Linked DNA regions of Homo sapiens: regions 1 and 3 are each linked to region 2. The links come from fine-mapping of genetic effects on gene expression. A gene starts in region 2. Each other region holds a variant in brackets. All regions are shown on one strand. Distances are from middle to middle. Region 1 overlaps MTHFD1L (methylenetetrahydrofolate dehydrogenase (NADP+ dependent) 1 like). Region 2 holds the start of MTHFD1L (methylenetetrahydrofolate dehydrogenase (NADP+ dependent) 1 like). Region 3 overlaps MTHFD1L (methylenetetrahydrofolate dehydrogenase (NADP+ dependent) 1 like).

Region 1 (10,779 bases), 140 kb before region 2:
AGCCATGGTTATTTGTGTAATGATCAAAAGGAAGTCGATCCCAGCGCAGTATTTGTAGCAAAAAAGAAAAAAGAAAACAGAAGTAGAAATGAATAATCATGGTTCAAAAATACAGAGCTATTCAATATGAAGGAAGGACACCGAGATGAGCACTATGGAATAGAGGATTAAGAGGATGAAAGTTCATTTATCTTGCCATTATTGAAAACACTCCCTGCATATAGACCATGCCAGACACTTGGACCATACCAATTAATAAGACACAGTCCCTAAACTCAAGGAATTGAGAATTACATAGGGAGACACAGAACAAGGCATTCATGAAACAATGTGAGGCAGAAGGTACTACTGGAGCCCAGGAGAGGGATGCCTAGCTTCACAGGGCTTCCTGGTCCCTGCTGGTTTTTTTTTTTTTTTTTTTTTTTTTTTTTTTTGTTGTTGTTGTTGTTGTTGAGATGGACTTTTGTTCTTGTCACCCAGGCTGGAGTGCAATGGTGCAATCTCAGATCACTGCAACCTCTGCCTCCCAAGTTCAAGCGATTCTCTTGCCTCAGCCTCCTGAGTAGTGGGAATTACAGGCGCCCGCCACCACTGGTCTTGAACTCCTCAGGTGATCCACCTGCCTCAGCCTCCAAAGTGCTGGGATTACAGGCATGAGCCACCACGCCTGGCTGGTCCCCACCTTTTCTTATCCTCCACCCATATCTGTGCCTACTAACCCTGTTCCATGTTACCATGATCACTGGCTGAGAACCATGACATTAAGCAGCAGTGGAAGAGACACAAAGGATTAATGTGGCACGAAAGTGCAACCACTGAATAACAGAGCACATATGTTAAGATGAATGAAATAGGATTGTAAACCATGTAGAGAATTTTTACAGGACAGAGACCAGAGTCTGGAAAACTATGGGACTGATGTCAAGAGACCAGGACTGTAGATCTGATCAGTCCCTGAAATAGATGTGTGACACCACTCAAGTCACTGCGTCTCCCTGTGCCTCAGAGATTTTCTCTTTATAAAGACTGAATGAGATCAGACAATCTCTAAGCCCTTTCTATAATTTTCAGGGTGGCAGGGCAGGGAGGGAGAATTCCAAATGCATCCTACATGGGCGGAAGTAGTTTTTAAAAATAGAAGTTGTTATACAGATTCAATGTCTAAAATCCAGGAAGGACTGTAGCAACAAGGGGTGTTTTGAGTGAAGTCAGAATTCTTTATGATTTACTACTTTTAATCTGTATTATATCATTCTTGCATTTGAAATGATGATGAAGCTTTAGGCAAAAATGAAGTGCTTAAGTGTCGGGTATTAGGAGTGGATTTGGATTTAGAAAACTTCTGCCCTTCATTAACATCCAGCTCTGCATGGTGGACATAGTAGGAGATTTAGATCTGAAGTTCTCGGCTCTCTGCTGGCCTGCTGACATTGTCCATATTCCCTAAGCCTATCAAAACTCAGCTTCCTTATCTGTAAAATGGTATAAAAATCATGTCCACCTCTCCCAGGAGAAAGAATTGCTTTACAGCGTTTCATGATGGCAAACCTGCTACTTGTTTTGACTATGCAATAATCATTGAATATATGACTTTTGTCACATACACAGTACAGTATACCAATTAAGAAATCAGATTTGGCAGTTCGTCTCATATGTGAATATTATGATAGAGAAATTTTATTTTATTTCAAAATGATTAATCAGTATAAAATGTCTTATTCTCCACTTGGAAATTCCTAAAAATGAAACAAAAAAACAACAAACAAGCAAACAACAACAAAAAAACCCCCAAAAATCTATGCACAGGTTTTCTGTGGAAAGGAATATATTTCCTTTATAATGTCTGTAATTTCTATATATATTAGGATAGGTAAATATAAAAAGTCTTTAAAGAAGTTAAAATCGAATTTGTGTTTTCCAAGCAAAGCTCTTAGAAACAATCCAGTATTATAACAGAGTTGTGAGGAGAAATCATAATAAACAGAAAGAGAAGGAAAATAGTTTTAGATGAAATCTGATGAGTTGCAGCATCAGTGAACCGAAAAACTATCTGTACAAACAATGAAAAATCTCTGTCATCAAAGAACTCACTCTAATCCTCTTGTTCTTCGTTCAGGGACAAGAGCCTCTAACCTCCCATTACCATATGGTTATACAATCTTGGCCTGAGTATCAGATGTGAAGCTTGAGACTAAAAAGTGGTTGCATTATGCTCCTTTCCAAAATATTGTTTAGAAAGAACTGTGGGTGTTACTGTTTACTCGAACTTACTAAACTCAAAGTGCCCTATGGTGGTGTTGGGAAAAAACAAAAAACAACACAAAACAAAAAACGTTTTAGATGTCCACGAGGGAGGTCTACAGGAAAAAAAAAGTTTTAAGAAAAATACTCTAGAAAACTATAGTCATTAAATGGGCAGGAATTTTTCAAATGCTCAATTCTGTTTTAACATAATGAAATTTCTTTGGTATTAGGAAGGCGGTGTGGGCACTTACACTTGGCCCGCCTCCATGCATCTTCAGAGCTCGCACCGTTGCCACTAACACAACCACGTTGGGCACCAAGCCGGAAGCTCGGCACTTGATGTTGAAGAATTTCTCCATTCCGATGTCAGCACCAAAGCCAGCTTCGGTCACTGTGGGGAAGCAAGTGGAATATGTGCTATTATCTTCTAAAAACAAAGGTAGGTTTTGGCAATCACCACTATGATTCGAGCTCAAAGGACAGCTTACATTCCTTTTGTTTACCAACACAAAGGTGAACTGATTTCCCCATTGTCATAGAAATGTTCTTCACTTTCTGCCCTAAAGAGACTGCGCCCTCCTCTGCTTCCCACCGCCAGGCCTGAGGGATTCCTTGTGGTGGCCAGGCCAAGACTTTTCTTCCCATATCATAACTCACAGTGAAGCTTTTTTTTTTGGAGATGGTGTCTTGCCCTGTCGCACAGGCTGGAGTACAGCGGCATGATCTCGGCTCACTGCAACCTCTGCCTCCCGGGCACAAGCGATTCTCCTGACTCAGCCTCCTGAGTAGCTACAGGTGTTTGCCACCACACCTGGCTAATTTTTTATTTTTGTATTTTTAGTAGAGATGGGGTTTCACCATGTTGGCCAGACTGGTCTCAAACTCCTGACCTTGTGATCCACCCGCCTCAGCCTCACAAAGTGCTGGGATTACAGGCGTTGAGCCAAGGTGACCAGCCAGTGAAGCTTTTCTTCATACAGATGGGGATTTTCAACTTTGTAATCAGGTTCCAAATTGTTTCAAAAGGCAATGATAGTATGATTACAATGGAAGATCCTTTCTTACTCTTTTTTTTTTTTTTTTTTTTGAGATGGAGTTTCGCTCTTGTCCCCCAGGCTGGAGTGCAATGGCACAATCTCAGCTCACTGCAACCTCCGCCTCCCGGGTTCAAGCGATTCTCCTGCCTCAGCTTCCCAAGTAGCTGGGATTACAGGAACCCACCACCACACCCGGCTAATTTTTTTTTTTTATTGTTAGTAGAGACGGGTTTTTGCCATGTTGGCCAGGCTGGTCTCAAAGTCCTGATCTCAGGTGATCTGCCCACCTTGGCCTCCCAAAGTGCTGGGATTACAGGCATGAGCCACCACACCCGACCCTTTCTTACCCTTTATATTAAGAATAATTTATTTTAGTGCCACCCAGTAATTTCTGTTAACTGACAAATTTCAAGTTAGTTGAAGGGCATAAGGATACTGATGGTCAATCTGGATACAAGACAGCAGCTTTATTAGAGAAACACCAGAAAACACTCGTTTCTAGTCCCCACCCCCTCAGTTGCTAGAAAGGTCACAGCTGCCTTTCAAGATAGCGAGGCACTGGGTCAGTAGTATCTTCTTCATACACAAAGAGCTCTAGGACCTTGCTGCTCAATGCGTGATTCGTGATCAACAGCATCAGCAGTATCTGAGAGCCTCTAAGACATGTGGAATCTTGGGCTCCCCACAAAGTTTACAGAATCAGAATCACATTGTTACAAGATCCCCAGGTGAGATGATTGTCCATTACAATCTGGGAAGCAAACCACTCTAGGAAGGGAATACTACTGAGTTAATACAAAGTAAATGTTTATGAAATACATACTTATATGCTGACGGTATGACCAGGACACCGATCGGAACTGGCGGGAGAAAAATTAACTAAGATATCAGAAACATTTAACATGATCAGTTTCCTTGCTGTGCTACAAACTTTCAAAATTTACAATTATAAGTGGCAGCTTATAATTTTGTTAAGTTGCTGTAGCAAGATTTACAAAATTGTTCCCCCTGTTACTGAACATTTGGGTTGTTTCCAATATAAACAATACTGCACTGAAAATATTTGTGCCTATGTGCTTTAATCTCTTTCAAATTACGTTCTTGGAATAAATTCCCAAGGGTAAGGTAATAGGGCCAGAGGACATAAAAAATTTTTATGACCATTGATATGCTTTTGACAAATTAAAAAAATTACATCAAAAATGTTCAATTTGGATAAATATAGCTACAAGCCATTTATCCTTTATTATGTGTTATTTGAACAAACAAAGTGGCAGAACAATTTCGAGAAATAAAAGACATTCCTCTTTATATAGTATTTGGGACAAATCTTGTGATTTTACTTGTAGTGGTCAAAATCAGAGAAAATCACTTACAGTAACAATCCTTACCTCAGTGGTACCTCCTGGTAATGCATTTGTTAACTTTAGCCGTTGGTGGCATCATGGACCCCAAAAGAGGGATAATCCGGGTGACTTTTGTCAAAAGTCATCACTGAGTGGGCTCCTGGAGGTGGAAGGCTGGACAATAAGGCCCCAGTACTGGATTATGCGGCGCTGTCCTGCAGGTTAGCACACGGACGGGACCCCGGATCCCTCCCAGCTGTGCACCTTGGCAAGTTCCTTGTTGGAAGGGTTAAGTGAGACGGCACAGGTACATTACTGAGTCACTGGGGTTTTTCTTGGTGCATACTGAGAACTCACAAAAATAGTTCACATCTTTGTAACCAAAAGGATAATTCTCCCACTTGCTAAAAATCATATTGAATTCCTAAGCATTTGTGGGAATTCCTGCTCCATCCAGGCGTTTTTCTCACTGGTAGAAGCTCACTCTTAGGGTCACTACCCTGAAGCCCTGCAGGGAAGTGGGAGAGAGAACATCTGCTATTCAACTAGAGAGAGCTGGAGGGCGGCACACTGGGAGGGACGGAGTTTGCCTGGGAGGGTTGGAGAGAGGGGGTGATGGAGTCAGGCTCTGAGAATCAAGTAGGATTTTTCCAAGCAGAGAAATGTGGAGTTGGGTATGGCAGGCAGAGACCAAGAGGAGGAAGGAGAGGGAGGAAAGAAGAGATTCATAGGTAAAGGCAGAGCCAGGGAAGAAATGGTCATGATGAAGGGAAATCATCCATCATGACTGGAGAAGTCATTATTTCACCAGCAAGACTGGTTCACTGGCCTGATTAGTACCGGGGAGTGGGACTGAAGTAACCCAAATGTTACGCATTTTTTTCAATGCCATGGTATTTTGAAAAACTGTTTAATGTCGCCCTATAGTTGGAGGTAGATTGTTGCATACATTTTACATAACGGGGGCTGATCAAGTGATCTCTAAGTTCTTTCCAACTGGATGCATATTTATGTGTTAAACTACCCTGTTAGATTGCAAGCTCCATGATGATACGGACCATGTGTTTGAGACATTAACATGTCAAGACACATAGAAGGCACTGAAGGAAAGTCACCATCTATCTCCAAACCAAATAAAAAGAGAGTAGCAGAAAAGCACATCTAAAAACACTTGGACACAAATATATTAATGAAAAGTTTCATTTATAACCATTGAATGCCCTTGAAAAATTGCAAGCTCAAATTCCCTTCAAAAACCTAGCTCCTCCCCCCTTCAATGCGCCCGTGTAGTCACCATGTTCTCCTGTCTTCAGTGGTTCCTGCTTCCCTAAAGTGCCTTAATATAAAAGTCAAGGCCACCCTTGTGTAAACTTCCTTCCCCTACCTTCATCTTCCTTCACACT[C/T]CCTGCCTCAGACTTCGTGCCTCTGTAATATCAAGCTTCCGGCACAGCCCACATACTCTATGTTACTTGTTGTCACCTCCAGACCTCTTTTCCCATGTGGAACATTCCTCTCTCCCCTCTCTGCCTCTTTAACCCGCTGTCCAAGACTCAGCTTGGATGTGCCATTTCCTGGAAGCTTGTCCTGATGCTTTCGGGCAAAGTTGGCTACTCCTCCCGCCCATCCCACCCTCCCGGCCCTGTGGTGTGCTCCCTTGCAGGGCCCTCATCTGTCACCACATGCAGCATCCTAAGTACACTGACGTGCCGTCTCCCACATGGAGGGCGGGACCACGCCTTATTCATCTGGTAGCTCCACTTCCTAACGCAGTACCTGGCACAAGCAGGTCAATGAAAAAACAGGATGGGACTTGGGAGCCAGTGATGTCAAGGCCACACTTCAATGGAAATAGACACATAAAATAGCATTACATAGAAGTACAAATATGTTCTTAGTCCTCCCTATCATACTTCCCTTTTTTTCTTACAATACTACAATGGTTTTACTGAAAGGCATAAATGTCATATCCGATAAAGATATGACCATCTAAAACATCTACACAGGCTAGCTAAGCTTAATTTCATATTTTAATTTACTTATTCATTTATTTTTGAAACGGAGTTTCACTCTTGTCGCCCAGGCTGGAGTGCAATGGCACGATCACAGCTCACTGCAACCTCCGTCTCCTGGGTTCAATTGATTCTCCCACCTCAGTCTCCCGAGTAGCTGGGATCACAGGCACCCGCCATCATGCCCGGCTAATTTTTGTATTGATGGGGTTTCACCATGTTTTATTTTTAAAAAGAGACCAATTGGAAACAAAAAAGTAGTAATAAAGAGAACTCTAGCTAGGGGACGAAAACAACATGCAGAAGTAAAGGTTCGAGGAGTTTGGCTTCCAAATGCAAAGGAAATAGACGAAGAATGGGAAGAAAATAAAAGAAAGTGCCAAATTCTCTCAGTTTGAAAACTGTCCTGAAATGCTGCATGTAATCACTTTTATGTCGTTTGTATTCAAATATCAGGCTGCCAAGGAAACAGAACATGGAAAAGGTATGCTGATGTGTAATCAGTAATTATGAAAGTAAAAACTACTTTAATAAGGTGCCACCAATTACTACGAACTTGGACACTGTGGAGTGCTGTGTATCTGTGCCTTAGGGGGCCTTGATATGAAGACCCATCTCGTGAGAAGGGGACAAACCACTCTTATAGGAAGGTTCCATTTCCTAGGTACTTCTTGGGAACTGCCAACATATATAACCTATAGGTTAGGTTTTCTTAGTGACTTGAAATGAGCAATTTATTCCCTTATCATATTTGCAGTTCTTAACAAAGCTTAAAAGAGATACAGGCCAAATAATTATTTAATGTTAAATTCAATATAGACTTGTTCTTAAGTCATGAAGCAAGTCCACATAGTAGGATTTAGCTTTGCTGAAAGGCATATCACGTAGACTTCTGAAAGCTGCATATTTAATAAGGCTTGTAATAAATTGTTTGCACAAGCCATAAGAATTATTTGTCTTGGCAATCTCTTTCCCTTTTGTTACAGCTATTCAACTTACAATATGAATGAAAACAGGAAACGCTGACTAATACTCTTATTGTGCAAGCACAGAAGCTGCTAGATAGTGATTCTATAGCATGGTTTGATTCAAACTTAAACCCGTAATCAGCTGAGAAAGGAAGGGTCAGTGGGTCTGAGTTGGGAAGGGACAATTTGGGTAAATACTGCTAGCAACCTGTACAGGAAACAGAGCTCTGGGTTCAGATGGAGAGTCAAAACAATTCTGGAAAGCCAGGCAGCTGCCTTTCCATGATCATCCACGGGTGCGGCCAGAGTTGTGTTGTAAAAATTAAGCAGAAACAATGATAACGGCAGAAACGAGAACACCAGAACAACACAACATTCCTGGCAGGCAAATGTAGTATCCATGATATTCTTCAGGGAGGGAGAGACGATTTCTACATCTTAAGTTATTCTGTATGTCCCCACCTTACTGCACACATTAAAGAAAGCTGCAGCGATAATTAGGACTTGGATTTTTTTGTTTGTTTTGAGATGGAGTCTCATTCTGTTGCCCAGGCTGGAGTGCAGTGGTGTGATCTTGGCTCACTGCAACCTCCGCCTCCCACGTTCAAGTGATTCTTCTGCCTCAGCCTCCCAAGTAACTGGGATTACAGGAGCGTGATTTTTGTATTTAGTAGAGACAGGATTTCACCATGTTGGCCAGGCTGGTCTCGAACTCCTGACCTCAAATGATCTGCCCGTCTCAGCCTCCCAAAGTGCTGGGATTACAGGCGTGAGTCCTGGCCAGGACTCAGATTTTAAAGTAATCACCAATCTCTCTCTCTCTTTTTTTTTTTTTTTTTTTAAAAAAAAGCATTAACATCCTCACTTCATTAGAAGGCCCTTTAAAATATGGGTTCATAAAACCCTACAGCTATGTGGGAACTGTATGGACAATGTACTCTAACTTTCTCCTGTGCACCAGGCCAGTTACTTTCTGGAGATAATGACACAAAGCCCAGTGTGGTGCCCCCGGTCCCTCTGATGCCCAGCCCAGGGTTCTGTCTGCTACATATGGCATTCTCCTCAAAAACATCATTAAACACTCACATCACAGAATTCAAGAACAACCTTTCTTTCTTCTCATTCAATAATTACTGAACCCCTACGATTGTGCCTAGTGTCTTGCCTAGTGTTTACACACAATCATCTGTGTGCCAGTGTCTTCATTTAGTGGAGAAACAGCCACAGGCACATTTTTAACATGACAAAGATGGGAAAGATTAATTCATCACCTAGTGAAAAAGAACGTCTTTCTGACCTTTCCCCCCTTTTTTTTTGGATATGGAGTTTCACTCTTTTTGCCCAGGCTGGAATGCAATGGTGCGATCTCGGCTTACTGCAACCTCCGCCCTCCAGGTTCGAGCGATTCTCCTGCCTCAGCCTCCCGAGTAGGTGGGACTACAGGCACCCACCACCACGCTCGGCTAATTTTTGTATTTTTTGTAGAGTCAGGGTTTCACCATGTTGGTCGGGCTGGTCTCGAACTTCTGACCTCAGGTGATCCGCCCACCTCGGCCTCCCAAAGTGTTGGGATTACAGGCGTGAGCCACGGCGCCCGGCCAACTTTTCTGTTTTTAATGTGTTTTTTGTTGTTGTTGTTGTTTTTCTTGAATTCTGTTTGGTACTTTCAAAATTGTGCTTATTTACCTGGATCCAGGTAAATTTGAATTCAGTTCTGTGCCACACTGATTTTTGGATGTTCTCATGCTTTAGTGCATTCACAGAACCCATTTCTGCAGAATCACAAATCCTAAGTACAGTTCAGCCCTTCTCGACTGGAGGCGGTTCTGCCTATTCCGCTCCCCACCTGGACACTTAGCAATGCCTGGAGACATTTTTGATTGTTGTAAATGGCATCTAGCAAGGATGCTGCTAAATATCCTATAATGCACAGGACAGCTGGGACCCTCCCCCCGCCAACAAGGAATAATCCACCCAAGGTCTCCATAGCACTGAGGCGCCGACAGCTTGCAGTGGCTCACGCAGGAGGAAGGAGCCTGGCGCTTTCTAGACGCCTCCTCTGAGAATATTACGAATGCACTACATGCTAGGCAGAAAGATTGTGCAAGATCATTATGCTAATCGTTGTAACCCTGTGCACTGTAAGATCCTGGAATATGAATTATCGCAGTAAAAATTCCGTCCAGCGTGGTTGGGATGTGTTGCGTCAACAGTATGGTCGCTACAACCCAGCACTCTCTGGAGAAGAAAAACAGTGATGAGGTGACTGCTGAACCAGCTTCACAGGGAAGAAGGGAAGGTCAACAGAAATGCTCTCAACATGGGGCAGCATGGGCGGCGGCAGCTGTCCGCCTTACCGCTCAATGTGCACACGATGGGGAAAAACCATTCTAAGAGACCGAGGCATGGGGAGAGGGCCTCAAGTTAACATTTGTGAAACATTTTCTATGTAGCCAGGCAATGTACTAGGTGTCCTGTCTCACTTCACCTTCAACATCTGTGAGGCATCTTTCTCCTCCATTTACAGTTTATGATACTAAGGACTGGAAAATTTTATAATTTTCCCCAAGGTCACACAGCTATTAAGCGATAGAGCTTGGACTAAAACCAAGGCCTGTCTGCTAGCAACCTCTGCCAAAGTCCCTGCTCCATACTCCTCATCAAACAATCAACTGATCACATAGCATTTCCCTAGCTGAGCTGCTTGGTCAGTTTTGCTTTCAGTGAAAATCTTAACACTTGGTACTTCAATAATACTCCAGCATTTAACAAGTAGCTCTAAATTATTTTCCTGAACTGAGAGGTAAGTGTGTCCAGGCTTTTGTTCTAACTGCAATAAGGCCCTGCTGTGATTACCAAAGTATGCAATCTAGAATGTTCTTTATGATCCTCCTTCCTTTCCACCCACCCTCCCTTCCTTTACTTAAGTCAGAGTGCTTGTTGTCTCTTTTAGAGCAATTCATTTAGAGATTATAAATCACCTCCTCTGCTAGTTCTTGGTCCATGTGTCAACAGTGATGAGTTCTGGGGCAGCAGCAGGGAGTATTCTGTTTGACAAAGAAACACTTCAGAGAGAGGATGCTCCAGGGACCACTTCCACCTGGACTTGGTACCCAACCCCAGGCAGGAACAGGCCACACAGGTAGAGAACACTGGCGCTGCAATCCGGCCTCCT
Region 2 (10,779 bases):
TCGCTCTGTTTCCCAGGCTGGAGTGTAGTGGCTTACCACAACCTCCGCCTCCCCACAACCTCCACCTCCCGGGTTAAAGCGATTCTCCTGCCTCAGCCTCCCAAGTGGCCAGGACTACAGGCGCACACCACCATGCCTGGCTAATTTTTGTATTTTTAGTAGAGACAGGGTTTTACTATGTTGGCCAGGCTGGTCTCGAACTCCTGACCTCGTGATCCACCCACTTCAGCCTCCCAAAGTGCTGGGATTACAGTCATGAGCTACCACGCCCGGCCTTATATATGGGTTTTTTTTTAGACAAAACGCTAGTGCATACTTAATAGGCTACAGTATTGTCTAAACATAACTTTTATATGCACTGGGAAACTACAAAATTTGTGTGACTCGTTTTACTGCGATATTCCCCTTATTGCAGTGGTCTGCAACTGAACCCACAATATCTTAGGGGTGCCTGTACAGGTATGTAAAGGAGTTCAACGCTACTACCACCCAAGCTAATAAAACAAAATAGGTTCATGCTCCCTACAACTTGTTATATGTGTAATGTTTCATTTTTTGGGGTTACTCATTCCTACAGTGACAAAGCAAGAAAGAAAAAGGAGTCATTAGGCTCAATAAATCCAAAAAGTAGCATAAATGTTTCTAATCAGAGATTTTCATGTCCTTGGGGCAGAAAAATGGCCTTGTGAGCTTCCACTTTGGTTGAGGACAGTGGGAAGGAATGTGAGCTCTCTAGCTAGGTTGCCATGTGTAGCTAAAACTCAGAACTAAGCCATCAGCAGCAGCTTTGTTATTTTCACCATTACTGTGACTATTATACAGAATGTATTATTACTGGCCAGGGGCAGTGGCTCATGCCTGTAATCCCAACACTTTGGGAGGCCAAGGCGGGTGGATCATTTGAGGTCAGGAGTTCAAGACTAGCCTGGCCAACATGGTGAAACCCCGTCTCTACTAAAAATACAAAAATTAGCTGGGTGTGGTGGTGCCTGCCTGTAATCCCAGCTACTTGGGAGGCTGAGGGATTATGGTCATCTAGTCCCATCACCAGGAACAACAGGTCACTATGCTTTTGAGGGAGCTCATTCTTTAATTTTTCTGACTAATACACTTCCGCTCCTGGATGTCTATTCCAGGTGACTTCTAGCTGACACACACCCCCACCCACTTTGCTCCAATCCTCGGAGAATCAATTCAGGGCTAGAGTTTCAGTAAACCATGCACATAACTCAATTGAAAGGTACAATATAGCCAGGCGTGGTGGCTCATGCCTGCAATCTCAGCACTTTGGGAGGCTGAGGCAGCAGGATCACTTGAACCCAGGAGTTTGAGACCAGCCTGGCCAACATAGTGAGACTTCATCTCTACAAAAATAAAATTGCAGCCATAAGAAAGCATGAGTTCATGTCCTCTGCAGGGACATGGAAGAAGCTGGAAACCATCATCCTCAGCAAACCAACACAGGAACAGAAACCAAACACCCCATGTTCTCACTCATAAGTGGGAGTTGAACAATAAGAACACGTGGACCCAGGGAGGGGAACATCACACACCAGGGTCTGTCAGGGGGTGGGAGGGCAAGAGGAGGGAGAGCATTAGGACAAATACCTAATGCATGTGGGGCTTAAAACCTAGATGACGGGTTGATGGGTGCAGCAAACCACCATGGCGCATGTATACCTATGTAACAAACCTGCACGTTCGGCACGTTTCCCAGAACTTAAAGTAAAATAGAAAATAAAAATAAAAGTTATGGTTACCCTATACTGCCATCTATTAAGTGTGCAAAAGCATTGTCTAAAAAATGTACATACCTTAATTAAAAATACTTAATTGCAAAAATAAAAAATAAGGTCTCACTCCATTGCCCAGGCTGCAGTGCAGTAGCGCAATCTCCGCTCACTGTAGCCTTGACCTCCTGGGCTCAAGTGATCCTCCTGCCTCAGCCTTCTGAGTAGCTGGAACTACAGGCACGCGCCACGCCCAGTTAATTTTTTAAAATTTTTTACAGAGATGGGTGTCTCACTATGTTGCCCAGGCTGGTCTTGAACTCCTGGGAATGTGATCATCCCACTTTGGCCTCTCAAAGTGCTGGGATTACAGGCATGAACCATGGTGCCTGGCCTAAATTTGTCTTTTCTCTTGTTATAAATGTACCTACTAATAATTTTGATTTGCCTCTAGGATCACTAAACCTAAAATATTTACTATCTGGCCCATTATATATAAAACGTCTGTGGACCCCTGGCTTAGTGAATTGTAAAAATATTGCTGGGCATGGTAGCTCACACCTGTAATCCCAGCACTTTGGGAGGCTGAGGCAGGCAGATCACGAGGTCAGGAGTTTGAGACCAGCCTGGCCAACATGGTGAAACCCCGTCTCTACTAAAAACACAAAATAAGCCAGGCGTGGTAGTGCGAGCCTGTAATCCCAGCTACTCAGGAGGCTGAGGCAGGGGAATCGCTTGAACCCGGGAGGCGGAGGTTGCAGTGAGCCGAGATCCCGCCACTGCACTCCAACCTGTGCGACAGAGTGAGATTCCGTCTCAAAAAAAAAAAAAAAAAATTAATAGCCACCATTTGTTGAGGGACTTGTCTTGTATGTGACAGTCCTGGGCTATGTATTTTGCATGTGTCCTCTCACATAATTGTTTCCATAACCCCTTGAGGTAAGTACTGTTACTCCTCCCATTTTCCTGAAGGAATTGAGTTTGGAGAACCCAGTGCAGGCCCTAAAGCCCCCTACTAACCTCTTTACTCATCTCTAAGGCAGTCATGGCTTTAAACCTAAAAGTATGCATGAATAGCCCAGGCGCGGTGGGTCACGCCTGTAATCCCAACACTTTGGGAGGCCAAGGCAGTCGGATCACCTGAGGTCAGGAGTTCAAGACCAGCCTGGCCAACATGGTGAGACATCCTGTCTTTACTCAAAATACAAAAATTAGCCGGGCGTGGTGGCGTGCTCCTGTAATCCCAGCTACTCGGGAGGCTGAGGCAGGGGAATCGCCTGAACCTGGGAGGCAGAGGTTGCAGGGAGCCAAGATCGTGCCATTGCACTCCAGCCTGAGTGACAGAGCAAGACTCCGTCTCAAAAAAAAAAAAAAAAAAAAAGAATATGTATGAATAAAACCCACAGATGACCCCAAATCTTGAAGCATTCCTTCTGTAACCATTTCACAAGTGCTTATTACATGCTGGGCACTCTCTCCAGGACCTAGGATATAGCACCGAAGAGACGGCTGTCTCATGAAGCTCATATTCCAGGTGGGTGAGACAGACAAGAAATGAGCAAAGAAGGAAGTTTCAGGTAATAATCAGTTTACCTAGAAAATAAAACAGCATGACGGGAGAAGTTTTTTTGCCGCCTATCCTGGCTTCAGACTCTAACCGGTAAGATGAGTCTCAGCAACGTGCAGGTTAAAACCTAATGACCTGACGTGTAATTAATCCCAGCGCTTTTGGGGGCAGGGATGATGGCTTGCGCCCAGGAGTTCCAGACCAGCCTGGTAACAGAGTGGTGCTCTGTCTCTATGAAAATAAAATAAAATAATCCGGGCATGGTAGCGCACACCTGTGGTCCCAGTTACACTGGAGGCTAAGGCGGGAGAATCGCTTGAGCCCAGGAGGCGGAGGCTGCATTGAGCCGAGATGGCACCACTGAACTCCAGCCTGAGCAACAAAGCGAGACTCCATTTCTAAAAGAAAAAGAAGACAGAGAACAAGAAAAACTAAATAAATGGCCCCTTAAAATCATCCGCCACATAATAAAGAGCCTAGGAAACGTATTTTACTGAGATGGGAGAAGGGGAGTGGGGAGGAAAATGGGAGAGCAGAGGGAGGAAGGAAAGGCAGAGAGAAAGGCAAGCAGGCAATGACTAAGAAAGAAGGCTAGAAGGAAAGGGAAGAGGATGTGAATGGAGGAGGTGGTCCGCTGGCCGGGGAAACCGCATCCTGGAACTCGTTCCTAATCCCAGTTCCGAGGGAGGCGGAAGGGGCTTTCTTGCCACCCCCAAGTTGTCCCGAAGGGCTCGCCCTGCAAGGCCCGAGACCCGTGCGCCCCTCTGGGCGAGGGCGGGGAAGGCTGGAGCCCAGGGGCGGGGACCGGGACGGGAAAGGCCGGGCCCGGGGCTCCCAGTTCGCTCTGGGCCCGCAGAAAACCCTGCAAACCCAGCTGCGCGGGGACTCCGTGGGCGCTGCGCGGCGAAGCTGGAAACCAGCGCTGAGACCTCTCGGATTCCCCCCGGCGGCTGTCCCGGGGGCCCGGCTCCACCTTTGCCGTTCCGGGAAAAGCGGACGTCAGCCACAGACCCCAGCCCAGCAGGAGGGGCCGCGCGCGGGGAAGGGCGCACAACACCAGGGAGCTTCGCGCGGGCGGCGCTGGGCCCGAGCCCGCCTCTCCCGAGCTCCGCTTGCCCTTCCCGAACCCCGGGCCAGCCGGCGCGCCGAGCCGCAGCCCCGCCCTCCTCCTGCTCCTCGCCCCCTCCCCTGGTTTCCGCCCCAGCCGCACCGCCCCTTTACCGTCTGGGTCGCGCCCGGCGCGATTGCATCAGAGCCGGCGGCCGGCTGCGCACGTGGAGCCGGGCGTGCGGTCCATGCCGCTAGGCGCCCATTGGAGATGCCCACGCCCACCTGCGCTGCGGGCCCGGTCGGGTACTGGATCCCCCGTTCTCCGCCAGCGCTCCCGGCCGCAGTGCCCAAGCCCGCGTTTCCCGACACACCGCCCGGCCCCCCTAATGAGTTGGCACCAAACACTCGCAGCCCCGCGCCCCGCTCCCCACGGCGGTCCCGGGCGCTCCGCCCCTGGGTCGGGGCCACAGCCGCTGGAGACCTGGGCCAGGGCCAGACCCGACACTCACCTGACGATGGAGTCCCGCGCCGCGGGCGTTCGGCCGCCGGGGCTGCAGCTGCTCCGGGCCTGGCCATCCTGCGGCCGCCGCTGTCCAAGCAGGCCCTCCCGGCCACCGCCGCCGCCTCCGCCGCCGCCGCTGCTAGCGCGACAGGGCACACGGAGGCGGCGCGGAGGGCCCGGGGGCTGGGGCGGGCGGCGGAGCTGGCGCAGGACGAGCGGCAGACGCGTGCCCATGGCGCGGGACGGCTGGTTCTCAGGGGACACGGAGCTGCGGCTGCCGAGGGCGGCGGGGCGCGTGCCAGGGGAGCAGGCGGCGGCGGCGGCGGCGGCGGCGGGAAGGACCTGGCGCTTCCTCCTCGTCCCAGGGGCCCCTAGGGGGCACTGCACCCGGCGGCCGTGACGTGCGGAGGGCGGGGGCCTGCGAGCCGCCGGCCGGGATGTCACGGCTTTGGGCACTTTGGTTTGGTAAGCTGTACCAGACAGAGGGTGGGGTGCGGAGTGGGACTCAGACTCTGCCCTGAGACTCAGCCTCCCTCCCTTCAGCCTGAAAGGCCGAGGTGACCCTTGGTACTCAGGGCGCCAAGTTTAGACGGGAGGGCTTGGATTTGCTGTACTGGAGGTGGCCTGAGGATAAGAGGCTTTGTAACCTTAGGCAGGGGCACTTAATCTCGGTGAGCTTGCGGGGTCTTCGTCAGTACCACAGAGATAACAATGCTCTTCTTAAAACCTTAAAAGGATTTTATAGTCCTGATTGGTTCCAGGGCCCCTCCAGGGGACCCACGTCCACAAATGCTCAAGTCCTTGGTAAAAAAAAAAAAAAAAAAAAGTGTTTGCATATCACCTACACACATCTTCCCATCATAAACTTTAGGTCATCTCCACATTCCCTAAGTCCTCACCTAACATCGTGGAGGGGTTCTTGGAAACTGAAACTTTAAGCCAAATGACTGTAAGGAAAACAGTTTGACCACAGGCTAATTGATATGAGTGAAGTTCCTACAACATATCTGTGGTCACAAAATCGCCCCTAAACTTCGAAATAAAGACCAAAACACTTCTAATATTAAACATTGAAATAAGTGTGAGCCATGCATATATTTAAGGAAGATTTTTAGCTCACGCCTATAATCCCAACACTTTGGGAGGCTGAGGTGGGCAGATCACGTGAGGCCAGAAGTTCAAGACCAGCTTGGCCAACATGGCGAAACCCCATCTCTACTAAAAATACAGAAAATTGGCTGGGTGTGGTGGCGCGTGCCTGTATTCTCAGCTACTCGGGAGGCTGAGGCAGGAGAATCGCTTGAACCCAGGAGCCAGAGGTTGCAGTGAGCCGAGATCATGTCACTGTACTCTAGCCTGGGCGACAGAGCACAGCTCTGTCTCAAAGAAAAAGTTTTTTTTAAACACCCCCTATCCCTCTCGCTTAGAGAAAAATAAAGATTAATAAAAGTGAGATCATTTTTACCGGCTTATTCCAACTCAGGGCACCTCACAGGGTGTGCTCACACACACCCACACTCACACTCGGATCGTGTAGATGCACCAATTTACCTAAAGTGCACTGCACGGCTTTGGGATGTGACAGGACACCAGAAGACAGAGAAAATCCACACAGACATGGATAAAACGTGACAGTGGACCCAGCCAGAAATCTATTTTTTTCTCATCATTATAAGAAAACCACTGAGCAAAATGATGAAATGATGTTATTCCAGGACCTGCTGTACTTATAATACCTAATACAATGTAAATGCTATGTAAATAGATATTACACTGTACTTTTTTATTTCTATGATTTTTTATTATTTTTTGTTATTGTAATTTTTTCAAATACTTTCAGTCCCAGGTTGATTGAGGATACAGAGGGCTGACCATAAGTTCCAAGTAAAGTGGATATCAGATTGTAATTTTATGATTCCCAAGTGAGGGTCAGATTGTTAACTTTATATTTTTACAACCTTATACCCTTATAATTCCCAGATAAGGTGGGAATAAAACTAGTCCAAGTTACAGAGATTGGTTTTCCATTAGCCGAGCACCATACTGGGACAGTGCTGGAAGGACCCTTCATACAATCCTAACAAAAGTAGGGAATTGAGAGCTATTGTCTTGACCTTCAACCTTTGGAAACTGGGGTCCAGAGAGGCCCATCTGTTTACTGGCAGAGCTGGGAGATTGAGGCTGCAATGAGCTGTGAGCGTGTCACTGCACTCCAACCTGGGCAACAGAGTGAGACCCTGTCTCAAAAAAAAAAAAAAAAAAAAAAAAAGGCTTCCTGAAGAAAGTGAAAGAGGTGGCAGCTGGAGGCAAGACCTTAGCAGTTGAGCTAAGGGAAGGTCAGCTAAGGGAAGGAAATGAGCTAAGGGAAGGTCAGTGTTGGAAAAGTGGGAATGTTGGAAATGAAGGAACAACATGAGCAAAAGTCTGGAGTAGAAGAGAGCATGATGAATTTGAGATACTGAGAGCTGTTCAGTCGAGTGGGGAGGGCAGGGGAAAATGAGTAGCAATGGCAAGTAAGAAGAGCTGGGCAGGGCCACGTTGTGGCAGGTCACGAAACCATTGCATTGCATTTTTTTTTTTTTTTTGAGATGGAATCTAGCTTTATTGCCCAGGCTGGAGTGCAGTGGCGCAATCTTGTCTCACTGCAGCCTCCACTCCCAGGTTCAAGCAATTCTCCTGCCTCAGCCTCCCAAGTAGCAGGGATTACAGCCAACCACCATGCCTGGCTAATTTTGTGTTTTTGGCAGAGACAGGGTTTCGCCATCTTGGCCAAGCTGCTCTCAAATTCCTGACCTCAGGTGATTTGCCCTCCTCGGCCTCCTCCCAAAGTGTTGGGATTACAGGAGTGAGCCTCTGCGCCCAGCCCATTGCATTGCATTTTGAAAGCAGTGGAAAACAACTGAAGGATTTAGAATTAGGAGAGTGGCAATCTCAGATGTGTGTTGTAGAAGGATCACAGCAGCGACAGCGTAGACAATAGAAAGTGAAGGCAGCAGACAAATCCGAAGACTGTTTCAGTAACAGGAGAAGAAACGAGAAGTTCCTGAGTATATCCTTGACCAATGGATTGGTGAAAAGTGGATGGATTCATGAGATAAGTAAGAGGAACCATTGGTAGCCTTTAGGATTTGATTGATTTAGAGGGTATATGGAAGGAAGTTGTCAAGGATGAAGCCCCACTTTCTGGCTTGAAGTATAGGTGGTGCTATTCCTAGAGGAAGACCAGAGGAGAGAAGCAACAGGCTTAGCCCTATCAAGATTGGCATGCCTATGGGATATCAGAGTGGAGATGTGGAGTAGGATGTTGGATCCATGGATGTATAGCTCAGGAGAAAGTTCAAAAATGGAGATACAGATTTGATAACCATGGTTATGGGTAAGATCACCGAGAGAGTGTATAGAAGACAGGAGGACCTACAATAGCACCAAAAAACACAAACAAGAAAGAAGCAGAGGAAGACAATGCCACAAAAGAGACTACGGAGGGAAAAACAGTAGGAGAAAAAATTAGAAAGTGGGCCGGGTGCGATGGCTCACACCTGTAATCCCAACACTTTGGGAGGCCAAGGTGGGGAGATCACCTGAGGTCGGGAGTTCGAGACCAGCCTGACCAACATGTGAAGGGGGCCTGCCCCTCCACACCTGTGGGTATTTCTCGTCAGGTGGAGACGAGAGACTGAGAAAAGAAATAAGACACAGAGACAAAGTACAGAGAAAGGACAGTGGGCCCAGGAGACCGGTGCTCAACATGTGAGGACCTGCACCGGTGCTAGTCTCTGAGTTCCCTCAGTATTTATTGATCACTATTTTTACTATCTTGGTGAGGGGAGTGTGGCAGGGCAACAGGGTGATGTGGAGAAGGTCAGAGGGGAAACATGTGAGCAAAGGAATCTGTATCATGAATAAGTCCAAGGAAAAGTACTGTGCCTGGATGTGCATGTAGGCTAGATGTATGTTTCCCTTTACACAAACATCTCAGTGTAGCAAAGAGTAACAGAGCAGTATTGCTGCCAGCATATCTTGCCTCCAGCCACAGGGTGGTTTTCTCCTATCTCATGATCAGCTTTACCCTGAGACATTTCATTCCCAGGGACGTGCAGGAGACAGAAAACTTCCCCTTATCTCAACCGCAAAGAGGCCTCCCTCTTTCACTACTCCTCAGCACAGACCCTTCATGGGTGTCGGGCTGGGGGATGTAAGGTCTTTCCTTTCCCATGAGGCCATATCTCAGGCTGTCTCAGTGGGGGAAACCTTGGACAATACCCAAGCTTTCTTGGGCAGAGGTCCCTGCGCCTTTCCGCAGTGCATTGTGTCCCTGGTTAATAGAGAATGGAGAATGGCGATGACTTTTACCAGGCATACTGCCTGCAAACACATTGTTAACAAGGCACAGCCTGCACAGCCCTAAATCCATTAAACCTTGATTTGATACAGCACGTTTCTGCGAGCACATGGTTGGGGCTAAAGTTACAGATTAACAGCATCTCAAAGCAGAACAATATTTCTTAGTACAGATCAAAATGGAATTTCTTATGTCTTCCTTTTCTGCATAGACACAGTAACAATCTGATCTCTCTTTCTTTTCCCCACATTCTCCCTTTTGTTTTTGACAAAACTGCCATCGTCATCATGGCCCGTTCTTGATGGTCGCTGTCTCTTCGGAGCTGCTGGGTACACCTGCAGACTAACAACAGACAGAACAGGCACACAAGGATTAATATGAAATTTATAATAATGGAACTTCTGATGGTTTTAACCCAAGTGACTGGGTTAAGATTTGCGAGGCCATCAGTAGCTTCCGTAATTGCTTCAGTTCCTGGCACCAAATTTAAATGGGCTTTTGATGCCTCAAAAATTTGTTCTTTTAATTTTGAAATGTCTGAAGTAAGATTATCTTCTCTTCCTTGTAGATGGCATCTAACCATGTCCCAGTGAGGCTCAGACTCATTACAGGCTTGGGGTGTAATACAAAAATCTGACGTATTCCAGTCACACTGTAACTGAAAATGATGTTCCAAGCTCACGAGCTTATCTCCCATCCAAATGACATTTTGTCTAAGATCATTAATCTAATTTGCCAATTTTTGATCAATACCAGATTGTGAATTCCACAATCTTGTAGAATTTTTTTTGCCAATTGTTAACAAAGTGTACCGTCTGAACAGAAGAGTGCAATGCAACTCCTGCCACAGCGGCCATAACTGTGACTGCACTTAATCCCGTAGTCACCGCAATCAAAGTAAAAATGAATCTTTTGGATCTATTTAGAACTCCTTTTAATACTTCAGTTAAAATATGGATGGATGGCGAAGCCTCCTACAGTTGGTCCATGGACACAGGGATCCACATGGCCTCTCTTGCTCTCACTGGTAGAATACAGTGCTGCCAATTAAAAGTTGAATCAATGCAAGTAAACAATCTACAATTTTCACAGGTTATAGTTTGGGAATCTGGGTTAATAACTATTTTTCCTACAACTAGCATATAAGGGGGCTTTACACAAATTTGCAAAGGAATTGTCAGACTGGAATTTAGGTCGATAGTATAAGATGGCTTACCATCTCTTGTTTTTATAGCTTAATTTCCAGACCAAATTCTAATGTGGTGCGAGGCCACAGTAAGCTTCCAAAGTTCCGGACGCTTAGGACCAGTAACAGGACTAACTAACTTTGGTCGAGGTGATGAGATTCCCTTTTCACCCCATTCCCAAGGGTATAGAGACTCTAACCTTTTATACTTATTTTTATCTAAACCTTCTGTTAAGTCACTGTCCACAGTTGGACTCACATGTGCACTGGGACACGATTGAGTTTGTCCTGTGCAATTGCAGTAGAATTGACCTCGAGGTGCCCAATCTATAATGGTTCCGAATTCATTGTTTTGTAATATCACCGTCCTATCAGCCACACATTCTTCTCAAACTAAAACTT
Region 3 (10,779 bases), 22 kb before region 2:
CCATCTCTACTAAAAATATAAAAATTAGCCAGGCATGGTGGTGCTCGCCTGTAATCCCAGCTACTCAGGTGGCTGAGGCATGAGAATCTCTTGAACCCATGAGGCAGAGGCTTTAGTGAGCCGAGATCGCGCCACTGCACTCCAGCCTGGGTAACAGAGTGAGCCTCTGTCTCAAGGGGAAAAAAATCCCTATCTGTTGTTAAAATTTTTACTTCCAGTGTTTTTCACAGTGAAGCTTTTCCAAGGGTGTGCCAGGTGTCCTGTCCTGATTGGGTGCCCCAGGACACTAACCCATGCCTAGGTGGCTTTTTGCACCACTGTGGCCTCCAGACAGCCATTGAGTGGTACAATCCACATATTACCATGTCTCCATATTACCACGACTCCAAGGAAGGCTAGAATTCCTACTCAGGAAATGAATGGCAAGGGTTTTCTGCCCCATACATTCTTCTTGTAAAAATACAACAACAGAATAGTGACAATTCAAACGTCAGGCAGACACAGGGAGGCATATGGGTTACGGGGAAGTATGTGGCTAGTGAAAGACTAGCTGCTAACATGAAAGACACAGGCTGTCATTTGTGGTGGGACAGGAGCCTGACGTAGGTAGGTAGGCCAGGTAGAGGGGGACAAGTATGGGGCGGGGCTATGAACATTTCTTCCCATATTTTTGGCTACAAAGATGAAGCAATAATAAGAATGAAAGTTGATAGCCTCTAACATTCGCAATGGTGCCACTATAAATACCAAGGACTTAGGGAAAAAAACGTGTGTGCAACATCAACTATGAAAGAGAACCTTCTGGTCCATATGAAAACAAGAATGTTACCCAATGACCAGATTCTCCAGAAAGTGAAGCCACTTAATCGTTCTCAAAGTTCAGATGAGATTCATCCCAAAGTACAGAGACAAGGTGATTTATTCCCGTAATAAAAAAGTACTTTGAAAAATGTCTTTGTTTTTCAAAAATATAGATACAACTAGCAAAAGTATCTGTGACAGCTGCGAAAACATTCAATTGCCAAGGAAGGTATTTTCTCTCTTCACCACAGCTGTTCAGTGCAGGGCACGGTTTATTTTCCTCTTCCACTGAGCTTCCAAATCAAAATTTCTGGGCTCTCAAGTGCAAACTATTGCCCTTGAATTTTCTTGGATAGGCTGCCACCATGTGGTGACTGCTAAAAACGCACACAGGTTCACGTTTCATTGCAAGGCTGCCTTCCTGAGCTGTCTTAACCCAAGCATTACATAAATTGGATCCACCTGCCATGCAAAGATTCCAAATCTGCTGAGACACCTGGCTTCCCTGGCACGATTACAATTTACTCCTCATTTCCATTCTCACCCTGCAACATGAGGAACATGTATTTTTAGATCACATTCTGTAGTTACTGATTGTACTTAATGCATTCATTTAAAACTTCACTTTGCTTTAGATCTGTGAGCTGTACCATCATTTTTTAAAATGAAAAACAATCATTTCAGACATAGAAATGGAAAACAATAACCTAACATACCTAGACAACACCTATTGCCCAGTTTAAGAAAAAAGGCATGAAGGTGTCTAGGTTTCCTTTCCATCTATATCCACATCCTTGCCTCAATAAATGCTTTTCGGATTTGGTTCGTAGTTTGCATTATTTCTTTATATTTTTACTTCATTTGCATGGAATCCTAATATATATATAAGGATTATATAATTAATACATAATAATATAATATATATTATATATAATCCTAATATATATATTAAACAGTGATCTAAATGTCCTGACCTAAATATATATATTAAGATTCTATATATATATAAGGATTATATGTAATACATATTATATGTATGTATGTATTAGATTACATATATATATATATGTTGTGTTGCTTTCAGACACATATAAATGGTGTTGTATGAAATACATCCTTCTGCAACTTGGGTTTTTGTTCACTGAACAGTGTTTTAAAAAATTCTTCCAGCCCGGGCGCGGTAGCTCATGCCTGTAATCTCAGCATTTTGGGAGGTCGAGGTGGGCGGATCACCTGAGGTCAGGAGTTCCAGACCAGCCTGGCCAACATGGTGAAACCCTGTCTCTACTAAAAATACAAAAATTAGCTGGGCATGGTGGCGCACACCTGTAGTCCCAGCTACTCAGGAGGCTGAGGCAGAAGAATCACTTGAACCCAGGAGACAGAGGTTGCAGTGAGCCGAGTTCGCGCCACTGCACTGCAGCCTGGGGGATAGAGGGAGACTTCGTCTCAAAAAAACAAACAAACAAAAAACAAAACAAGAAAACATGTTGCTATCTACAGCTCTAGTTTATTAATTTTCACTGCTTGTATATCATTGTTTTATGAACTATGACTATGCATACTCTACATGCAACTATACTGATTTATCCTTTCACCCTGATGGGCATTTAGATCACTGTTTAAATACTTGTTGCAGTGCACTTGGTTTTTCAAGTCGCCTGCTTGGCTCTCTTCCAAGTTATACTTTCCTTCTTTCCTTTCCTTACTGTTCTAGAGCTTTTTGCTAGACTTTCCGTCCTGCTCTGAAACTTGCCTCAGTCTCTCCTTCTGCCTTATGGCCCTCAGTCCAATTCTTTCTTCCGAGGAGGCAAGAGCTGAAGTTGCTGCAGAACTGTACGGATACACCAGCACGAACTCGGGATAACTCGAATAGCTGCCACCGGTAACATATTTGGTGCGCGTGACTCAGATACATTCCCTAGTGGTCATCAAGCTCCAGAAGATGCTCAGGGAGGGATACTGTCCTCTCAATATTCAATAGTCACCGTTCCACAGGGGACCGCTGGCCTGCCCATCAGTGAAGGCGAAATCCTGCCCCTGTCTCCCTTGAACCTGGCTAGATACCGCTTTCACCAACTCATGGAGCCAACTCAGCCCTGACAGCAGAAAGGGGCCAAGACCCACAGAACCACCACTGCCCCTCTGTCTTAAACAAACAAACAAAACTTTTTGCACTATAAACATGCTGCTCTGACCATTTGTAAACACACCTTTGTATATATATGGGCAAGTTTTGTCTATTATATATATATATACACACACACATATATATACACTTTTTATTATTATTTTTTTGAGACGGAGTTTCGTTCTTGTTGCCCAGGCTGGAGTACAATGGTGTGATCTCGGCTCACCGCAACCTCTGCCTCCCGGGTTCAAGCAATTCTCCTGCCTCAGCCTCCTGAATAGCTGGGATTACAGGCATGTGCCACCACATCCAGCTAATTTTATATTTTTAGTAGAGATGGGGTTTCTCCATGTTGGTCGGGCTGGTCTTGAAACCCCAACCTCAGGTGGTCTGCCTGCCTCAGCCTCCCAAAGTGCTGGAATTACAGGGGTGAGCTATCATGCCTGGCCATATCATATATATTTAGAGTGAAATTCCTGGGTCAAAGAGTAGCTCAAACTCCATTAAACTGCTTTCCGAAATGCCTATTTCAAATTTAAACTCCCGCCAGCAATATATGAATTCCCATAGCTCCAGACATTTGTCAATATGGCTAACTGGCACTTTTTACCTACTGCCAATATGACTGGTGAGCAAAAACAGCAGGAAACCAGACAGCTTTTCACGTGTCTTTTAAACCTCGGGTTCCTCACCTGTTAGTGGTCTGTCATGTGTCCATTTTTCTAACAGATTGTCTTTGTCTCACTGATTTGTAGGAATCTTTTATAAGACACTAATTATTGGCTAAATGTTTGTTGTAAATATCTTCTACACTATAGCTGTCTTTTCACTTTTTTAAGAACTTCTTTTCAGAAAGAAAAACTTTGGGGTTTTTAAAAATTTGGATGCAGTCAGATTTATATACCTTTTCTTTAGCAATCTGTGCTTTTGGGGTCTCTTAAGCTATCCTTCCAACGCCAACCTCTTAAATGCATACGCCTATATTTTTTTCTATAAGTTTTACAGTTTTGCTTTCCACATTTAGGTATTTTAATATAGAAGTGATTTTTATATGTAGTGGCAGGTTAGTAATCCTATGCTAGACTCATATACATAACTAGTTAAGTCAGCACCATTTTTAATAGTTAATGTTTTAGCTTTTTTTTTTGAGACGGAGTCTCACTCTGTCGCGCAGGCTGGAGTGCAGTGGCACGATCGCGGCTCACTGCAACCCCTGCCTCCCGGGTTCAAGCGATTCTCCTGCCTCAGCTTCCCGAGTAGCTGGGATTACAGGCTTGCGCCGACACGCCCGGCTAATTTTTTTGTATTTTTAGTAGAGACGGTGTTTCACCATATTGGCCAGGCTGGTCTGAAACTCCTGAGCTCAAGTGATTTGCCCGCCTCAGCCTCCCAGAGTGCTGGGATTACAGGCATGAGCCACCACGCCCGGCCTTTAATAGTTAATCTTTTCCCCACTGATCTGTGGTACCTGCTCTCAAGCTTCCATATATGCATAAATTTCCACTTTCTTCTGTTCCGATCGTCTGTTTGTCTACCATATTATCCTAATTACTGTAAGTGCATAATAATTCACACTGTGTGGCTGGGAATGTCTCCCACCTAGTTTTTCCACAAAATTGTCTTGACTCTCTTTGTCCTTTATGCTTCCATTTGGATTTCAGAATCAGACTGTCAAATTCTACAAAATTTGCAGACAATTAGTATCTTTAAGATATTGCATCTTCTCCATGAAGATGATACCTCTGCTTTTATATGGGTCTTCTTAATAATTTTCATCAAAATTATAATTACTTTCAAAAGGTCATAATGCATATTAGATTTACCAAATGACTGTTCTGTACTTACTATGGTGAGAATTTAGTTTTTAATCACAATGTGGTGAATTACAGTGACAGACTTTCTCATGTTCAATCACCTGGAAATCCTAAAATAAACCCTACTTCCTGCTGTATTTGGTGTTCTCAGATTTCGCTCACGATTATTTCATTTATATTCATAGCTGAAACTGGCCTGTTAATTTTCCTTTAGCATGTTACCCTTCTTTGGTTTTGGCACTCATAAAGTCTGTTAGGCCACGTTCCTTCTTTTTCCATTTGCTGGAGAAAAGGATTGTATTAGAATGATCTGTTCTTTGTTTGATAGAGCTCATTTGTAAAACCACCTGTTGCCTTTTCTTGTTTGTTTGTCTGGTGAGTAGACTCATTCAATGTCTTTAATGGATATGGGTCTATTCAATTTTCTTCCTCTAATTTCTTGAATTAAGCACTTAGCTTATACATTTCTAGACTTTCTTCTGTTCTAACAGAAGCCTTCAAGATGTATGTTTCTAACATGAAATTTACCTTGCTTTGAAGCTGGCGTGTTTTCCACTGGATGCTCATTGTCATGGACCCTTTTCTCTGGAACAGGCATTGTAGAGCAGCTTCCAAAGACCCATGGGCCCCCACTACCAAAATCTTCTTTCCATCTAGGTTGACACCTACTAACCAAATGAAAATTCAATATTATACTCAAAACTTCAGATCCTTCCTTTAAGAACTTTATCTTAAGAAAAAAAGACCCTTTTAGGCTGGGTGTGGTGGCTCATGCCTATAATTCCAGCACTTTGGGAGGCTGAGGCAGGCGGATCACTTCAGGTCACGAGTTCAAGATCAGCCTGGCCAACATGGTAAAACCCCGCCTCCACTAAAAATATAGAAAATTAGCCAGGCGTCATGGCACATGCCTATAATCCCAGCTACTTAGAAGGCTGAGGCAGGAAAATCACTTGAACCTGGGAGGCAGAGGTTGCAGTGAGCCAAGATCACGCCACTGCACTCCAGCCTGGGCAACAGAGCAAGAATGTCTCAACAACAACAAAAAACCCTTTTAAAACTTGAACTTTCTCAGCACCAACCTACAATGACTAGGAACTAGGAGTGGGGTGTTGTAATCAACAAAAATTCTCTATTCAAACCCTTTTGGTTCCAATTCCTGTTGCTGAATTTCTTTCCACAATATGTAACTATAACTCACCAGCCTAATTTACTCTTTTCTTTGAGTACTTTCTAATGAAGTGGCTCAGAATCTTCATCTTGATAATCCACGTAATGAAAAAGCACTGTATATATGGATTATTTCATAGATTTGAGCTTAATATTACTGTCCAAAAAGCATATATATCCTGAATGTTAACCTTTTAATAAAACTTTGCCATATATTTTTGAAATTTTTCTTTGATTGTTGGATGTTCAGGGGTAGGGAGGGGCATTTGCTTCATTTCTATTCAAACTGGAGTAGAGAAAAAGATTTAGTTCGTTGAATTTTTTCTTTTCTTTTTTTTTTTTTTTCAGATAGGATCTTGCTTGTTGCCCAGGATGGAATGCTGCGGTGTGATCACAGCTCACTGAAGCCTTGACCTCCCAGGCTCCAGCCATTCTCCTACCTCAGCCTCCCAAGTAGCCGGGACTAC[A/G]GGCACAAGTCACCACACCTGGCTAATTAAAAAAAAAATTTTTTTTGGTAGAGATGGAGTCTCCCTATGTTCCCCAAGCTGGTCTCAAACTCCTGGGCTCAAGCAATCCTCCCATCTTGGCTCCACAAAGTGCTGGGATTACAGGTGTGAGCTACTGTGCCGGCCCAATTAGTTGAATCTTTATGTTCTCAGAAAGCCCTTAAATATATAAATACTTGGTAGTAATTTACTCATTAAACTTAATAATGAAGAAAGAGAAAATATTCATTTCTATTTCACTGACATAAAAACGCCAAGTCAAGGGGACAACAATGGAAATTAAGTCCTGACTACTGAAAAGCAAGCTGCTCACCAATAAATCCCAACCTAGGCTCCTGTGCCCTAAACTACATCTACCGGCTTCTTCTTCTTCTCTTTTTTTTTTTTTTTTTTTTTTTGAGGCAGGGTCTTGCTATATTGCCCAGGCTAGAGTGCAGTGGTGCAATCACAGCTCACTGTAACCTCAAACTCCTGGGCTCAAGCGATCTTCCCGCCTGAGCCTCCAGCATAGCTGGGACTACACGTGCACACCACCATACCCAGCTAATTTTTAAATTTTTTTTGTAGAGACAAGGTCTCAGTATGTTTGCCCAGGCTGGTCTCGAACTCCTGGCCTGAAGTGATCCTCTGGCCTTGGCCTCGCCTAGCACTGAGATTATAGGCATGAGCCGCTGTGCCTGGCCTCATTTAAGTCTTCAACGTAAGTCTTATCTAAGGCTACATATTGATAGATTTAGTAAGCTGAAACTGGAAGCATATTTTACTGTGGTTATTTTGACTGTTTCATGAGAGAAATTGAGCATGTTTAAAACAGGGCTAATCGTTTATCTCTACTAATTTCTCTTTTAATTTATAAGATGGTCTTACTAGAAAAAGTTTCTAGGTATTCATCTGTATCTCCCAAAAGATGAGAAAAATAAAAAAAGTCAACGTGAAATATCACTTCTATGTTCAATTAGAATCTTCTAGAAACATCCTAAAAGGATATCAGAATAATAATTTAAAAAAATTTTTAATTCTTCCCCAAACAAATCCTTATTAAAAATAATGTAAATACCAATAAATAGAAATCAGCGGCATTTCTCAAGGAGCATCCTACCTGATTTTTCAAGAAGTTCAATTACAGCTTTGGCAACAGGTGAAACAAAACATTCATGGGCATCCCCTCGCACCAGCTTCCCCAGGTTTATGTCTGTTACTCTGAATCAGAAAATAAAGAAGTAGGTTAAGTCAAAGCCCAGCCAAAAAAATCACTCACGTGTAATGTACATATATTAACCCCAAATAACATCCAAGTCAATGTTTGATAGACAGAATACATAAAAATGAATTAAAGAGGACCAGGCATGGTGGCTCACGCCTGTAATCCCAGCATTTTGGGAGGCTGAGGCGGGTGGATCACATGAGGTCAGGAGCTCGAGACTAGCCTGGCCAACATGGCGAAACCTCAACTCCACTAAAAATACAAAAGGTAGCTGGGCGTGATGGCACGTGCCTGTAATCCCAGCTACTAGGGGGCTGAGGCAGGAGGATCGCTTGAACCTGGGAGGCAGAGGTTGCAGTGAGTTGAGATCATGCCACTGCACTCCAGCCTGGGCAACAGAGCGAGACTCCATCTCAAAAAAAAAAAAAAACCCATAAAAAATGAATTAAAGAGAAAGCAGGCAATAAAGGCCATTCAATAAAGGTCTTAGAAAATTCTAAGGCAGTACCTTAGGAAACTTCACCCTGGCCCTGACATTGGGTGTTCCGGTTCTGCCAATATACCAGGACACAGCCTAAAGCCATACAGGGCTTCACTTCGCAACTCCAGGGAGCTCCTTTCAATGGACCCCAATGGACTAGCATCCCTAGAGTTACACAGAAGCATGGTCCTGCAGTCCACTCAAAACCCAGAACCAATCCTATAAATCTGGAGTGACCCAGTAAGACCTGGGATTGAGGCACAGGTCACAGGTCTGATTTCAACTTGACCTCGATATTTATCTCCTTGAGAAGTCGGGGTGGGGGGCAGTGGAAAAAATGAGTGACCACACACTTCTGAAGGGTTCTGTGCCTTTCCCTGTTCAAATCTAGGACAAAACATTCCACAGCTATCTAGCCTAAACTGAGCACGTCAATCTCAGTAACAGAATGGAGACATTTAGAACCATTTTCGTAATTTCTCCTTTTACTCTCTGTTGTTTTTGTTTGGTTGGTTTTTCCTGGCTGGGCCTCAGCATGAATTCCCCTCCTTTTATGAAAGACTTGAAACTATGCCCTAGGACCTTCAAGTTCTGAAAGTTTTCTCATGGATTAGTGCTTCTTCTCCTTTTACAGTTAGTCTACGACAGGACTGGAGATTGTCGTTTTTTAAAAAAATGTTTAATTATTTACTTAAAAATAGAGACAAGGGGCCAGGCGCGGTGGCTCACTCCTGTAATCCCAGCACTTTGGGAGGCCGAGGCAGGCGGGTCACGAGGTCAGGAGATCGAGACCATCCTGGCTAACACGGTGAAACCTCGTCTCTACTAAAAGTACAAAAATTAGCCAGGTGTGGTGGTGGGCACCTGTAGTCCCAGCTACTCGGGAGGCTGAGGCAGGAGAATGGTGTGAACCCAGGAGGCAGAGCTTGCAGTGAGCCGAGATCGTGTCACTGCACTCCAGCCTGGGCAACAGAGTGAGACTCTGTCTCAAAAAAAAAAAAAAAAAATAGAGATGAGGTCTCACTATGTTGTCCAGGCTGGTCTTGACCTCCTGAGATCAAGAGATCCTCCTGCCTTGGCCTCCCAAAGTGCTAGGATTACAGGTGTGAGCCACTGTGCCCAGCCAGGACTGGAGGTGTTCATGACACCTTTTCAGCCTGTGTTTGGGTCTACTCAAGTCACAATAAAAGGCTAGAATGGAAGATTGCTGGGTGTCTCAGGAAGGTGGTAGCCTCCCCATCCAGCCCCTGCAGGGTCTACCGGATCTGGAATCTAACTTTATAAATCTGCTTACAACCTATAACCATTAACACATTGTGTTCTTTTTGGCCACAGTACAAAACACTTCCTATATTTCCATGGAGGAAAATGGGGTTTTAATCCCCAGGAAGCATGCTTATCCCCCACTGGAGACGGCCGGTATCCTTTGTTCTATGAAGCTTATGTCACTCCATGACATGAATCACAGGCCAACATTACAGCACCCAATAGTTATGATGTTCCCCTCCAAATTTCAAATAAAACCTTGTGTCATTAAGAAAAGTATTTATTTTGCTTTTCTCAACTGGCCTGGGACTAAGACAGAATATGGTACTGCTGGGGAATCAGGTTTCTAAGTTTTCTTCTCTGGTCTGGTAGAATTACCAAGGAAAAAACTATTAGAAGAATAGAGCTGGCTAAAGATTGTATAAGTCAGACCGGAATTTATTAAATGAATCTGATGGTGTAAGATCATATGGCATTGAAGCACTATAAAAGGGCTAATGTATTTTCCAAAATATGTAACTTTTGCATGCAGAATTTTAAAAGGCTACAGATGGCCAGACACGGTGGCTCACGCCTGTAATCCCAACATTTTGGGAGGCTGAGGTGAGTGGATCACAAGGTCAGGAGATAGACACCATCCTGGCCAACATGGTAAAACCCCGTCTCTACTAAAAATACAAAAATTAGCCAGGCATGGTAGCGCATGCCTGTAATCCCAGCTACTCAGGAGGCTGAGGCAGGAAAATCGCTTGAACCCAGGAGATGGAGGTTGTGGTGAGCCAAGATCACGCCACTGCACTCTAGCCTGGGCAACAGAGCGAGACTCCATCTCAAAAAAAAAAAAATCCTATAGACTCCTGAAATATTTAAAATGATTTTTTTATCCAATTACTGACACAGTTGAAATAAATAGAAGAAATTTAGAAAAATAAAAGCAGGCACAATAGAAAAAGTGATTTAGCCATAAAGGTTGATTATTTGATTTTATTTTCTTACCCATCCACATCTTTTTCTGGTTTCAAGGCATTGAGGACTTTGTTGCTAAACAAGTTCTCAGAGATCTGAAGGGCAAGGCCATGTACTCTGGTATCTTCATTGATCTTTAAGATTTCATCTATAATCTAAAGAGAAAACAAAAAAACAAAATAAAAATTAGTTTTGTGAAAATGAGACCCAACAAAGGAAGCTTTATATAAAAAGTGGATTCATGAAAATGCATCTGTTATAGTTTGTTGTTGTTTTGCTCCTTGTTGGAAACTTGGTGTAAAGCATAATAAAAAGCCTATTTTTTTCTTTTCATCATGTGTACAAGGCTCAAAAAAAAAATTAAAAGGCTTGGCTGAATTTTTTAGTGACTTCTCTGCCTTTCTATGGCTCTACTCTGTGCCAGAAAAAGACAAAACAGA

What was found. PIP is the estimated chance that this variant, and not a neighbour inherited with it, causes the effect.
Region 1: its variant is fine-mapped to the expression of MTHFD1L in whole blood (TOPMed, PIP above 0.99).
Region 3: its variant is fine-mapped to the expression of MTHFD1L in nucleus accumbens (GTEx, PIP above 0.99). The same link has a PIP of 0.9 or more in thyroid and tibial artery.

The regions. Positions count from the first base shown.
Region 1 is chr6:151,001,675-151,012,453 of GRCh38, reverse strand. MTHFD1L (methylenetetrahydrofolate dehydrogenase (NADP+ dependent) 1 like) reads right to left here. Exons shown (of 28, transcript NM_015440.5): 21 at 2,496-2,635. Among named protein-coding and RNA genes, the nearest start is that of MIR12131, 96 kb to the left of the region's middle. RefSeq lists enhancers at 2,023-2,759, 2,760-3,498. The variant C/T (reference allele first, on the strand shown) is at 6,031.
Region 2 is chr6:150,860,127-150,870,905 of GRCh38, reverse strand. It overlaps MTHFD1L (methylenetetrahydrofolate dehydrogenase (NADP+ dependent) 1 like), which reads right to left and starts at 5,204. Exons shown (of 28, transcript NM_015440.5): 1 at 4,857-5,204. The coding sequence starts at 5,083. RefSeq lists silencers at 4,033-4,182, 4,303-4,502, 4,663-5,072, 5,133-5,362.
Region 3 is chr6:150,882,477-150,893,255 of GRCh38, reverse strand. It overlaps MTHFD1L (methylenetetrahydrofolate dehydrogenase (NADP+ dependent) 1 like), which reads right to left. Exons shown (of 28, transcript NM_015440.5): 5 at 10,370-10,494; 6 at 7,522-7,622; 7 at 5,275-5,411. Among named protein-coding and RNA genes, the nearest start is that of MTHFD1L, 22 kb to the right of the region's middle. The variant A/G (reference allele first, on the strand shown) is at 6,384.